Linked DNA regions of Homo sapiens: region 2 is linked to region 1. The links come from fine-mapping of genetic effects on gene expression. Tissue or cell type: whole blood. Region 1 holds a variant in brackets; the other region holds the start of a gene. All regions are shown on one strand. Distances are from middle to middle.

What was found. PIP is the estimated chance that this variant, and not a neighbour inherited with it, causes the effect.
Region 2: it holds the start of AQP11, and the variant in region 1 is fine-mapped to the expression of AQP11 in whole blood (INTERVAL, PIP above 0.99).

What each region holds. Positions count from the first base shown.
Region 1 is chr11:78,080,470-78,088,432 of GRCh38, reverse strand. LOC105369401 (a long non-coding RNA gene) reads right to left here and starts at 7,238. Exons shown (of 3, transcript XR_950342.2): 1 at 6,992-7,238; 2 at 4,901-5,103; 3 at 1,438-2,813. The variant C/T (reference allele first, on the strand shown) is at 3,614.
Region 2 is chr11:77,587,232-77,593,711 of GRCh38, reverse strand. AQP11 (aquaporin 11) reads right to left here and starts at 3,759. Exons shown (of 3, transcript NM_173039.3): 1 at 3,101-3,759. The coding sequence starts at 3,719. RefSeq lists a silencer at 3,783-4,412.

The sequences.
Region 1 (7,963 bases):
GTGGTGGCGGGCACCTGTAGTCCCAGCTACTCGGAAGGCTGAGGCGGGAGATTGGCATGAACCCGAGGCGGAGCTTGCAGTGAGCCGATATTGTGCCACTGGACTCCAGCCTGGGTGACAGAGTGAGACTCGGTCTCAAAAAAAAAAAAAAAAAACCCCACAAAGCAAAACAAAACAGGGCCAGTTGCAGTAGCTCACGCCTGTAATCCCAGCACTTTGGGAAGCCGAGGTGGGCAGATCACTTGAGGTCAGGAGTTTGAGAACAGCCTGGCCAACAGGGCGAAACCCCATCTTTACTAAAAATACAAAAATTAGCAGGACATGGTGGCACACACCTGTAATCCCAGCTACTGGGGAGGCTGAGGCAAGAGAATTGCTTGAACCAGGGAGGCAGAAGTTGCAGTTAGCTGACATCGCGCCACTGCACTCCAACCTGGGCGACAAAGTGAACCTCTGTCTCATAAAAAAACAGGCCCAGAAGATTGTGGGGGTTATGTGTTGAGGAGCAGTGGGCTAGGCTTCTGTTATGGATCCCCTTACTCAGAGTTAGATTTTTTTTATAGAAGCTGAGCCTTGGAATATCCATTGAATACACAAGTATTTCATCATGTTTTAAGAAAATCTGTAAACTTTATTTTAGATGCTTGCCTAGTAGTTTATCTGGTATTCAGAATTTACATATTGCTTCTGAGGAACATTTTTGGTTGTTTTTATTCTTTTAATAACATTTTAAAAGAAACACTGTGGTTAAAAAAACAAAAATTTGTGCAAAAAACGTTTTCCATGCTATACTATTTTCAGAGAATAAGATTCCTAGATGTGTAATTATTGAGTTAAAGGGTGTGAACTTTTGAAACATTTGCTGCCTTTCAGGAAAGTGCTAATATACACTCCAGAAAAATCCTAATTTGGGCTGGGCGAGGTGCCTCATGCCTGTAATCCCAGCACTTTGGGAGGCCAAGGTAGGAGGATCCCTTGAGCCCAGGAGCTCTAGACCAACCTGGGCAACATAGCAGACCCTGTCTACAAAAAATTTAAAAATTAGCCAGCATGATCGCACCACTGCACTCCAGTCTGTGTGACAGAATGAGACCCTGACTTGAGAAAAAGAAAAGCAAAATTCTAACTTGAAATATTGTCAGGTAGCGTTTTTTCTATAGAGATAAAAGGTCCATGCTTTATGTAATCACTCTTAGCTGGTATTTAATTCTTCCACTCAGGAAATCACTATCTTTGATGCATACACCTTTGCATAAACCTCTGGTTTAATCAGCCTCATTTGGATAAAATGTTTATTCTACTAATGAATGGACATGACAGGAAGACATTTTAGCTCAACATCAGGAAGGGCTTTCCAAAGGGAACTGTTCAATCTGCAGTATTAGAGGTGGGTGAGCAGATGTCACGCATGTCTGTGTGAAGACGCCACCAACAGGCTTTGTGTGAGCAACAAGGCTGTTTATTCACTTGGGTGCAAGTGGGCTGAGTCTGAAAAGAGAGTCAGCGAAGGGAGATGGGGAAGGGGTTGCCCTATAGGAGTTGGGTAGGTAATGGAAAATTACACTAAAAGGTGGTTATCTATTGTTAGCAGAGGAGGGGGGTCACAAGGTACATGGTAGGGAGATCATAAGACTCATTGTCCAGAAGAAGAATGTCACAAGGTCAATCGATCCATTAAGGTAGGGCAGGGACCAGTCACAATGGTGGAATGGTGGAATGTTGGTTAATCTGTTAAGGCAGGAACTGGCTGTTTTACTTCTTTTGTGGTTTTTCAGCTGCCCCAGACTTCTTGGCTCCTGCAGGCCATCTGGACACATATGTGCAAGTCACAGGGGTTACAATGGCTGAGCTTCGGCGCAGAGGCCTGACATTCCTGTCTTTTTATTTATAAAATATAAAGTTATAAGAAAAGATAAAGAAAATATAAGTTTTTACTGGGGATTATTGGGGCAGGGGCGATGTTTCTCAGGGCTGCTTCAGGCATGACTTAGGGGCAGCATGGACACCTAAAGAAAATTTAATTTTATAGTGAGTTGGTCTAGAAAGTTTTCGGGTACAATTTTGTGTGGCTAACAAGGCACCAGTTAGCATATTTTTGAGCTTGGAATTCTCCTAGTAGAATAAATTATCTAAAAATAGCAATTAAGCATAATAGCTTTAAGGTAGGTGGCAGTGAGTTTTTAGGCCAAGGTAGGAATAACGTTTTATATACCAAGGCCTTTTGTCCCCATTTGCCATCATATGAATAGGATCCCCTGGCATCGAGCCAAAAGTCTATTATGTTACTTTTTTCCCAAAGGTGTGAGTGGTGTTTTGAATGGAGGAGTTCAATAGTCCTTACTGCAGACCCTATACAGGAAAGACAGTAAGTACAATAGTCCCTGTCTCCTGGAATAAGTTGGGGCTGGCAAAGAGAGAAATGTCCTAGGCCTTCTAATAACCAATGACAGACCATGTGTCGTCCTGGATGTTGACCTGAGTGCCAGATATGTGGAACTGGTCCTCTATATGCATATTGCTGGTCATTTCTATATGAGTAGGCCTGAGGACCCCATGGGCAAGGATTTGACAGCTGCCACCCCAGGCATTTTAGATTTTTAATTCAGAGGTCTTTGATTTTGGGGGTGGGGAACATTTTGGAGGACAAGGCCTGAAGGAAGTTGTTTTTATAGACAGCAGGTCCTCAGAGATTATGGTTTAGAGGAACGGGTGAAGCAGGCCTGGAAGTATGTTTGGACAGCCGTTTGGAGGGGGTGTTGCACAGAAGCTTGGTCTTGTCTGGATGTTGCCAGGAGTTCATCACTGGTTTAGTCCTAAAGGTGAGAAGGAGTATAATAGGACGAGGAATAGAAGTTTAGGCTGTGGGGAGATTTTGGGGCACCGGATAGTACCATGGGGTTGTTAGAAGCAGCAACTGCAGTATGGAATGATTGGTGATGGCCTGGATGCGGTTTTGTGTGAATTGAGGGACTAAATGAAAGACAAAAGGCCCAAATAAGAGAAGGAGAAAAACAGGTACCAGGGGACTAAGAGTAGGAAGGAGCCAAGACGCCCAGTTAAAAAGTGCCCAGGTAGGTCCAGCATAATTATTTGCCTGGCTGGCGAGTTTTGGGGCCCTAACTTTAAGCTTTTTTATGTTGTCATATAGCAGGCTGGATTGATTTAGATAAAAACAACATTCTTCATTTAAAAATATGCAGAGTTCTCCTTTTTCAGCAGTGAGTAGGTCAAGGCCTTGGTGATTTTGGAGGACAACTGCGACTAAGGAACCGACCTGGGCCCGAAGGACTGATAAAGTTTGTGATATATCTGTAATGCTAGCAGGAAAGTCATTAGAAAGACAATGGAAGGTTGTGACAGAAGTTGAAATGCCAGGTAGGTCAGAGAGATACAGTCATGGGGGTCAGGTGTGGTATCAGGAATAATGTGGGAGGCCGGATTGAAGTCTGGGCCAGGAACAATGGTAATTATGGGAGACTCAACAAAGAGTGAGTATAGCTGAAGGAGCTGGAGGGGCAGAAAGTATATGCATCAGGTTTGAGGAAGAAAATAGATTTTGAAAGTTATGAGAACTGTAGAGAGTGAGTTGAGCATAGTTTGCGATTTTAAGGGC[C/T]TCTAAAAGTATTAGAGCGGTGGCAGCTGCCACACGCAAACATGAGGGCCAGCCTAAAACAGTAAGGTCAAGTTGTTCAGACAAAAAGGCTACAGGGCGCGGTCCCGGTCCTTGTGTAAGAATTCCGACCACACAGCCCTGTACTTCAGCTGTGTGTAATGAAAAGGGTTGGGATGAGTCAGGGAGAGCTAGTGTGGTAGCAGTTTCTAGAGCTGTTTTCAAGGAATGGAAAGAGGAGTGGGGAAAGGATTTAGGATCTGTGGGGTTGGCTAGGTTTCCCTTTCTGAGTTTATATAATGGTTTCGAGAATAAATGTTGAAGGAGCAGGAGGGTGTCTTGTTGAGAAGATTTAAAGGAGGGGCTACAAAGTAGAAGGTCATCAATATATTGAATAAGGTGAGAAGCAGAGGGGTGGAAAGAAAGTAAATCATGAGAAAGAGCTTGGCTGAAGGAATGAGGGCTGTCCCTGAAGCCTCGTGGCAGTACAGCCCAGGTAAGTTGCTGGGACTGATGGGTGTCAGGGTCAATCCAGGTAAAAGCAAAGAGGGCTGGGACGAGGGGTGCAGGGGAATAGTGAAAAAAGCATCTTTAAGATCAAGAACGGAATAGTTGTGGAGGAAGGTATTGAGGACAAAAGAGTGTACGGGTTGGGCACCACAGAGTGGATAGGCAAAACAATTTGGTTGATAAGGCACAGATCCTGAATTAACTTGTAATACTTGTCCGGTTTTTGGACAGGTAAAATGGGGGAATTGTAAGGAGAGTTTGGAGGCTTTAGAAGCCCATACTGTAGCAGACGAGAGATAATAGGCTTTAGTCCCTTTAAAGTCTGTTGTGGGATGGGACACTGGCACTGAGGGGGGTAAGAGTGATTAGGTTTTAATAGGATAGTAATGGGTGTGTGATCGGTTGCTAGGGAGGGAGTAGAGGTATCCCATACTTGTGGGTTAAGGTGGGGGGATACAAGAGGAAGAAGTGAAGGAGGCTTTGGGTTGGGAAGAAGGGTGGCAATGAGATGTGGCTGTCGTCCAGGAATAGTCAGGGTGGTGGATAATTTTGTTAAAACATCTCAACCTAATAAGGGAACTGAGCAGGTGGGAATAACTAAAAAGGAGTGCATAAAAGAATGTTGTACAAGTTGTCACCAAAGTTGGGGAGTTTTAAGAGGTTTAGAAGCCTGGCTGTCAATACCCACAATGGTTATGTGGGCAAGGGAAACAGGTCCTTGAAAATAAGGTAATGTGGAGTGGGTAGCCCCTGTATCGATTAAAAAGGGGACAGACTTACCCTCCACTGTGAAAGTTACCCGAAGCTTGGCATCCATGATGGTCCAGGGGGCTTCCAAGGTGATTGGGCAGCGTCAGTCTTCAGCCACTAAGCTGAGCAGGTCTGGTAAGGAGTCAGTCAGAGACCCTTGGGCCAGAGCTTTAGGGGCTGGGCTCTGGAAGTGGCTGCCGGGTGAGCTGGGCGGTCTGATTTCCAGTGGGTCACTGCACAGATGGAACATGGCTTGGGAGGAATCCTGGGCTGCAGGCATTCCTTGGCCCACTGGCCAGATTTCTGGCACTTGAAGCAAGATCCTGAGGGAGGAGGTCCTGTAGGAAAGCCTGACCACTGCAGCTTAGGCATTTTGAAGTTCTTGTGTGCCGGAGGTGCAGCTGGGTTTTGTCTCACAGCAGAGGCAAGTAATTGTAACTCAGAAATGTGTTTCTGCTTGGCTGCCTCTTCTCTATTATTGTACACATTGAAGGCGAGGTTGATTAATTCCTGTTGTGGGGTTTGAGGGCCAGATTCAAATTTTTGAAGCTTTTTTCTGATGTCAGGAGCTGACTGGGTGATGAAATGCATATCAAGAATAAGACAGCCTTCTGGCCCTTCAGGGTCTAGGGCTATAAAGCATCTAAGGGTAGCCACCAAACAGGCCATGAACTGGGCTGGGTCTTCATCTTTACCTTGGGTAGTTTCTTTAAGTTTGTCATAATTAACAGATTTGTATGCTGCCTTTTTAAGCCCTTCAACTAGGCAGGAAATCATGTAATCTCACCTAGCTATACCTGAGGAACCTGCCTGATAGTGCCACTGGGGATCTTCTCAGGGAACCGTCTGTAATACCTTCCTGGAGGCCTGGCTCATAATGCCAGTGGGTGTCTGTGTGGGACTAGGCTAGAGGAAACACTCTTTCCCATTCATCTGGGGAGAGGGTAGAAATTAGGATGACATTTAAGCCACTCCAGGTTAAATTGTAAGACTGGGTTAAATACTGGAATTCATGTATATATTTGGTGGGGTCTGACGAGAAGGAGCCTAAGTGTTGATTAATTTGGGAAAGGTCTGATAGAGAAAATGGTACATGCACTCTGACGATGCCCTCAGTTCCAGCCACTTCTTGAAGAGGAAATTATTGGGCAGGTGGGGGAGTATTTGCCGCAGAACGAAATTGTAAGCTGGACCAGGTGTGGGGAGGGGAGATGATAGAAGGGTTGTAGGGTGGGGAAGTGGAGGCTGAGGAAGAGTTGGAAGCTGATTCAGCCTGGTGGGGAGCGACCTGAGGAGGAGCAGTCTAGGGAGGAGGGTAGAAGTCAGATGGGTCGGTAGAAAAGAAATATTCAAAAGACTCACCGGCACTTCAGGTTGGGACTGAAGGGACAGGCGGGAGGGAAAGAAGGAAGATTTGCGGCAAGTCGCACTGGGAACAGAGATTAGGGAAGGAACGAAGTGTAAAAAATGCCTGGATGTAGGGCACCTCAGACCATTTGCCCATTTTATGACAAAAATTATCTAGATCTTGTAGGCTGGAGAAATCGAAAGTGCTCTTTTCTGGCCATTTAGAGCCATTATCAAGTTTGTATTGGGGCCAAGTGGTGTTGCAGAAGAAAATAAGACACTTAGGTTTTAGGTCAGGTGAGAGTTGAAGAGGTTTTAAGTTTTTAAGAACACAGGCTAAGAGAGGAAGAAGAAGGAATGGAGGGCTGAAGGTTGCCCATAGTAAAAAGGTAAGTTTAGAGAAAGGAGGAGGTTGAGACATGGAGAGAGGGGGGGTGGTACTTGCCACCCAGGGGAAGTGGTACTTGCCACCAAGGTGGAAGATCAAAACAGGTGTCCCCGCAGTGATCGAACACCTCTGAAATGTGGGTGAATAATCAGGCAGGCGTCCCTGCAGTGACTAAACACAAGGGAAGACAGTCTTCCCGAGTCCATGACCAGCGCCAGAGTTTTGGGTCCACAGATAAAACGGGTCTCCTCTGTCTCTACCAGACAGGGAAAGGAACCGAAATTAAGGGAAGGGAGAGACTGAAGGGTGGTGCCGAAATTGAAAGGAGAAAGAGGTTGAGGGATAGTGAAAGAGGTTGAAGAAGAGAGTAGAAAGAGGCCACTTACCCGATTTAAAATTGGTGAGATGTTCCTTGGGCTGGTCTGAGGACCCGAGGTCGTAGGTAGATCTTCCTCACGGAGCAAAGAGCGGGAGGACAGGGGATTGATCTCCCAAGGAAGGTCCCCCGATCCAAGTCATAGCACCAAATGTCAAATGCATCCGTGTGAAGAGACCACCAACAGGCTTTGTGTGAGCAACAAGGCTGTTTATTCACTTGGGTGCAAGTGGGCTGAGTCCGAAAAGAGAATCAATGAAGGGAGATGGGGAAGGGGTTGCTTTATAGGATTTAGGTAGGTAATGGAAAATTACAGTAAAAGGTGGTTGTTATCTATTGTTAGCAGGGGAGGGGGTCACAAGGTACATGATGGGGAGATCATAAGACTTATTGTCCAGAAGAAGAATGTCACAAGGATGGTTGATCAGTTAAGGTAGGGCAGGGACCAGTCACAATGGTGGAATGTTTGTTAATCAGTTAAGGCAGGAAGTGGCTGTTTTACTTCTTTTGTGGGTTTTTGGCTGCCCCAGACTTCTTGGCTCCCGCAGGCCATCTGGACGCATATGTGCAAGTCACAGGGGTTACAATGGTTGAGCTTCGGCTGAGAGGCCTGACAGCAGAGACTGGAAAATTGCTTAACAGAATTATAAATTCCTTCTTTCATTACTCAAACCTTTTTTTTTTTCTTTTTGAGACGAAGTTTCGCTCTTGTTGACCAGGCTGGAATGCAATGGTGCGATCTCGGCTCACTGCAACCTCCACCTCCCAGGTTCAAGCGATTCTCCCCCCTCAGCTTCCCGAGCAGCCGATTATGCTGCCTCAGCCTTCCCAGTAGCTGGGACTACAGGCACCCGCCACCACGCCCAGCTAATTTTTTGTATTTTTCGTAGAGATGGGATTTCACCATGTTGGCCAAGCTGGTCTTGAACTCCTGAAGTGATCCGCTCACTTCAGCCTCCCAAAGTGATGGGATTACAGGCGT
Region 2 (6,480 bases), 490 kb after region 1:
TACTTTACTTAAAATGGGAAGAATATATTCATCGATGGGTTGTTTTTTTTTGTTTTTGTTTTTTTTTGAGACGGAGTCTCGCTCTCTCGCTCTGTCTCCCAGGCTGGAGTGCAATGACTCGATCTCGGCTCACTGCAAGCTCTGCCTCCCGGGTTCATGCCATTCTCCTGCCTCAGCCTCCCCAGTAGCTGGGACTACAGGCACCCGCCACCATGCCTGGCTAATTTTTTTGTATTTTTTAGTAGAGACGGGGTTTCACCGTGTTAGCCAGGATAGTCTCGATCACCTGACCTCGTGATCTGCCCGCCTCGGCCTCCCAAAGTGCTGGGATTACAGGCGTGAGCCACCGCGCCCGGCCGATGGGTTGTTGTAAGAATTAATTAAGATAACTCTCATAAATTTCCTTGCAAAATGCTTGGCCTATAACAGCTGACAACTGAATATTCTTATCTCCCTTATATTGGCAGAAAACAAACAAAGGGAAGATCATACTGCATTATAAATTTCTGTAACTAATAGTAATCAACAATTGTCTATTTTGTTCTACCCATGCAAACAGACTCTAGCACTGTCCAATCCTGTACCCACTAGCTACAGCACAATTTGACAACTGACCACTTGAAATGTGGCTACTCTGAATCTAATTTCAGTTAATTTAAGTGTAAACAGCCACATGCAGCTAGTGGCTACTGAATTGCACAGTGCAGGTCTAGACTCCTAAAGCAGTGCTTCTTTACCTTGGTTTCATAATGGGATCACCTGTGAAGCTTTACAATACACCGCTGCCTAGGCCCCTTGCCAGAGCAATTGGATTTTAATCTGTGGGCCCAGAACAAGGACGTTTAAAGAGCTCCCCAGGTGATTTTAATACAGAGAGAAACACTGCTCTAGTGTTCCCTTTATACTCTCCCTCTCCCCCATCAATTAGTACCCTCATTTCAAGAAAAAAAGGGCAGTGTTTTTGATCTGTTGATATTTTATAGATACTTCTAATAACTTTCCTTATATCTATGACTGGATCTATAACTCCAAGTATTATCTGTGTCTCTTCTCTCAAATTTTTTGTCACTGATAAAATAGGGAATGGCTAATATATACAGTATTATCTATGGAATCATAAATATGTATTAAAAGTAGACAGAAAGAATATCAACTTCAGGTTAATCAAGAGAGGGAAGAGGAACATAGGTATTGAAAAATCCAACTGTAGTTAATGTTCTATTGATGTAAAAATTCTTTTTTAAGTTTTTACTGCTTTTAATTGTAGAAATAAAGAGCTAAACCATAGCATAACTCTTTTTGCAGTGACAATTCTGTTCATATACAGGGGATGTTTCTGCTTTAGCTAAAATCTAAAACTTCAATAAATAAGCAACTACCCACCAATCCCTCAAATATGCCTGTACTTGTCACTCTTTTTCTCTTTTTCTTTTTTTTTTTCTTTTGAGACAGACAGGGTCTCTATAACCCAGGCTGGAGTGCAGTGGCACTATCACAGCTCACCACAATCTCAACCTCCTGGACTTGGGTGATCCTCCCACCTTAGCCTCCCAAGTAGTTGGGACTACAAGTGCGCACCAGCACGCCCGGCTAATTTTTGTATTTTTTGGAGAGATGGGATTTCTCTTATGTTGCCCAGGCTAGTCTCGAACGCCTGGGCTCAAGCGATCCACCTGCCTTGGCCTCCCAAAGTGTTGGGATGACAGGTGTGAGCCACCGTGCCCGGCCCCCTTCACTCTTCTATACCACTTATTTCCATTTATGTCTACTTAAAAAGTGGTACTAGACCTAAAGAAGGGGAAATTGATTGGGAAGGCTTGCTTTCTTTCTTTTTTTTGAGACAGAGTCTCACTGTTGTCGCCTGGGCTGGAGTAAAATGGCGCGATCTCAGCTCACTGCAACCTCCGCCTCCCGGGTTCCAGCAATTCTCCCGCCTCAGATTCCCGAGTAGCTGAGATTACAGGCGCCCACCACCATGCCTGGCTAAATTTTTTTTGTATTTTTAGTAGAGACGGGGTTTCACCATGTTGGCGAGGCTGGTCTCAAACTCCTGACCTCAGGTGATCCACCCACCTCGGTCTCCCAAAGTGCTGGGATTACAGGCGTGAGCCACCGCGCCCGGCTGAAGGCTTTCATTTTTACCCTAGAAGGTCAAGTACGTGTTTAGGAGTCCTTATCTTGAAGTTTGCTTCTAGTCATTGTTTCACTTTTAATGGGCAGAAGATTATTACCACAAATTTCCTTTGTTGTTATTTCTGCCTCCACAGTCTTTTATAATTTAGATGTAGTCCCAATAAAGATATTCTGTTGTAATCATTTAAAATGACACATTTCATCATTAAATACTTGTGTTTTGGATTTCCTCCTCCCACTTAGGACTAGATTGCCCACTGCATCTGAGATCTGTCAAAGTAAACAAATGGTTTAAAAGAAATCAACAGATTTCTCAAGAGTTATATTTTAAAAAGCATCTTTAATTTGAAGCAAGTTATCATTTAAACATTTTTCTTAATAGGTCACTTAAAAGTTCATGTATAACTCAAAATGAATTATTAAGGAAATAAGAAATTTCATAACTCAAAATGAATTATTAAGGAAATAAGAAATGACTTTAAATCATTTATAGGACTAAAATGGAACTACAAAATTTCTACCCTCCGCTCTTATACTAACCAATCATGTGCCTTGTGCTTTAAATCGAAAGGAACTTTGTAAAGCCAGGATCATTTTTCAGTAAGAGTATCCGAAACGATCTATACCACCTTGGCATGAAGAAAGAGGCAGTTAATAAGTTATCTTTCCTTTCTACCATTAAAACAATCCCTTTGTAGGATATCTGAACCCTTGGCAATATCTCACAGTATCTCAGTTTCAGCACAGAGGTGGCTCCTTTCTCTGGGTGTTCAAAGCAGCACTGCATGAAGGCTCTACGTGTCGGCCCTACTGGTTAAGAACGGGCTGCAAAATGGTTAGAATAACGGGGATACCAGCATTTACATCATAGCGGGATAGACGGTTTCAAATGTATTTTAGTAAAGAACTTACAGCCTCATGTCATAGAGGCTCTGGAAGTGCCAAGTATTTGGTGAGAATGACAAACCTGCATAGACCAAAAAGGTGATGAGTGCAGCCAGCAGGTGGATACGAAGCTTGGTTCGGACTTCCTGGAAGTGCAGCAGAGCGCTGTGGAAGAGAAAGGAGCAGACGGCCTCTGTGATGACCGCTTTGAGCAAGTCGACTCGGATGGGATTCTTGCAAGCGAAGCTCCTCTCGCTGACGTGATACTGGGTCAGACCCAAGCTCCACAAGGCGCTTGTGCAGTACCTGCTGCACAGGGCACTAACCAGCTGAGCCAATAGCCTCACCGCACCCGTCTCGGGGGACATGCCCCCCAGCATCATCTGCATCATCACGCCGCACGGGTTGCTGGACGTGCCCACCAGAGTCAGGCCATGCACAAGCGAGAAGAAGTAGACGAGCGTCAGCGTCCAGGTGGGGTGCGCGGGGTGCTGTTCGCTCAGCAGTTGCAGCTCGTGGGTGCAGCAGCAGAGCTGGAAGGTGGCTAGAAACTCCAGGACGAAGGCGTGGGCCACCGGCCTGTGCAGCTGCTGCCGGGCGACTACGCGGGCCAGCCCCATGAGCAGCACCACCGACAGCATCAGTCCCAGCGAGGTGCAGGTGTCCTGCAGCTCGGACCGGAGCCCCAGCAGCGGCGACATGGCTCCGTCGCCGCCTGAGCGGGTTGCGGGCTCCGGCTCTGGGTAGGAGGCGGTCTCCAGGCCCGAGTCCGAAGTCCGCAGCCCCTCCCCTCCTCACGCCCCTCGGGGCGGGACGAGCGGGAGGCTCCCGAGCGGCACACTTAAGAAGTCCTCCCCGCCTCCCCGGCTTGGCGCTGGGGTGTTGGAACCAGAGCCGAGGAGGCGGGGAGGCGGGGAGGCGGGGAGGCGCGGGGAGGCGCGGGGAGGCGAAGGGAGGTAGCCTAGGGCGCCGGCCGCAGGGCCAACGGTCAGCCGAGCCCACCGCGCACTCACCCTCCGCAGTCTCCCTCAGGGCCTTGTAGGCGGGCGCGGCGGCGGAGGGCCGGCGCGGCGCGGTCGACGCAGCGCTCTTGGTGCCCACTGCGCACGCGTGCTGCGGCCCTTGCGCCCCTGCGGGCGGTGACACCCGGACCACGGGGCGGAGAGGAGCGGCACGGCGCGGCGGAGCTCTGATGGTTGCTTTGCAGCGAGGACCTTAGAGTTTTTCTTTCCCCGCTCCACACTGTAAAACCGTGGAGCTGGAAAGACCGCTGAAGGCCATCTCACATAGCCACCTCGTTTTTATCAATGGGCGACTGAAATTGAGAGGGGAGACGCGGCGCAGGGGGCGGGTGAGTTAGTGGGCGTAGACCGGTGCGCAGGGCCTCCTGGAGCCTTGCTTTTCTTCACCTGCCAAAAAACATTTCTAAAAATGGTGGTAATATATGCCAGATAAAATTCGCCACTTTAATCAATTTAAGTGTATATTTCAGTGGCATCGATTACCCTCACAGTGTTGTTCAACAGTCACCTCTTTTTTCCAGAACTTGAGCGGTGATTCTTCAAAGTGTAGCCTAGTTTTAGCATGTGACTGTCTATAACCTTTGGCATGAACTCTTTACGTATAATATGAAACAGTTGTGTCTTACTGTTACATGCACTCTTCGTGAAGAGGAAACAACAGGTAACTGGAGAGGTCTGTTTCCAAGAACTGGGGGTCCTGGCGCACCTCTTCCATCTGCTTTGAAAGCAGGAATACGGCTGCGTGAGGTGGAGCGCGTCCGGAGTCCCAGCACGGAGAGGCTTAGGTGGGAAGACCGCTTGACCCCAGGAGTTCCAGGCTGCAGTGAGCTGAGATCGCGCCACTGCACCCCTGCCTGGGCCACAGAGCGAGACGCTGTTTTTAGAAACAAAAACAACAACAAAAACCGGGCGCGGCTGGGCGCGGTGGCTCACGCCTATAATCCCAGCACTTTGGGAGGCCGAGGCGGGCGGATCACCGGAGGTCGGGAGTTCGAGACTAGCCTGACCAACATGAGAAACCCCCGTCTCTACTAAAAATACAAAATTAGCCGGGCATGGTGGCGCATGCCTGTCATCCCAGCTACTCGGGAGGATGATGCAGGAGAATCGCTTGAACCCGGGAGGCAGAGGTTGTGGTGAGCCTAGATCGCGCCATTGTACTCCAGCCTGGGCAACAAGAGCGAAACTCCGTCTCAAAAACAACAACAACAACAACAACAACAACAACAAACCAGTCAAACAAACAAAAAACAAAACATGAAAGCCACTTAGTACAGTTCCCAATACGTAGAAAATATTCACTAAGTGGTAGCTTACAGTGGAAACAGCAGGTTTCAGCAGCCAGAGTGCACGGCTCTTGCCACCGCATTCCAGTCCCAACAGCTTGTCCCCTGGGGTGGCCCATTGTAGGTGCAGCACTTTGGGAGTCCGAGGCAGGCGGATAACGAGGTCAGGAGTTCAAGACCAGCCTGGCCAACATAGTGAAACCCCGTCTCTACTAGAAATACAAAAATTAGCTGGGCATGGTGGTGCGCACATGTAGTCCCAGCTACTCGGGAGGCTGAGGCAAGAGAATCCCTTGAACCCGGGAGGTGGAGGTTGCAGTGAGCCAAGACAGTGCCACTGCACTCCAGTTTGAGCAACAGAGTGAGACTTCGTCTAAAAAAAAAAAAAATTCTTTCACAAGACACAAACTAGTAGAAAATCAAGACCTTTTCTCTTTCCTGTGTTGATTGCCTGGCCAGAAAGAATTTAAATTAGAATTATTTATTATTATTATTTTTTTAAGACAGAGTCTCGCTCTGTCTCCCAGACTGGAGTGTAATGGCGTGATCTCAGCTCACTGCAACTTCTGCTCCCGGGTTCACGCCATTCTCCTGCCTCAGCCTCCCGAGTAGCTGGGACTACAGGCGCCTGCCACCACACCTGGCTTTTTTTTTTTTTTTTTTTTTTTTTTTTTTTTTTTTTTTGTATTTTTTAGCAGAGATGGCGTTTCACTGTGTTAGCCAGGATGATCTTGATCTCCTGACCTTGTGATCTGCCCGCCTCGGCCTCCCAAAGTGCTGGGATTACAGGCGTGAGCCACCGCGCCCGGCAATTAGAATTACTTTTAAGTCACTGCTGTTTAAAGAAGTTGCCTTTAAATCAATCCTATGAATGTAACCCTTTCAGTGCTCCCCTAGACTTGAAGTCACTTGAGGATTAATGTGAATGTATTTTATTTACTGCTCTGCTGATAATTCACTTTTACCCGGAAGAGTCATGTAGAAAACCAGTGTTTTGGACTTTGGTAAGAAATTTTAGTATCGTGGTAATACATATTGTCATTAAAAGGACTTTGGACATTTTTTAAATTAAAGAACAAGGGCAAAATTAACATAATTAATTACTACTGATTGGATATTTTGCATCAAATCAACCTTCCTATTTTCAGAAACAA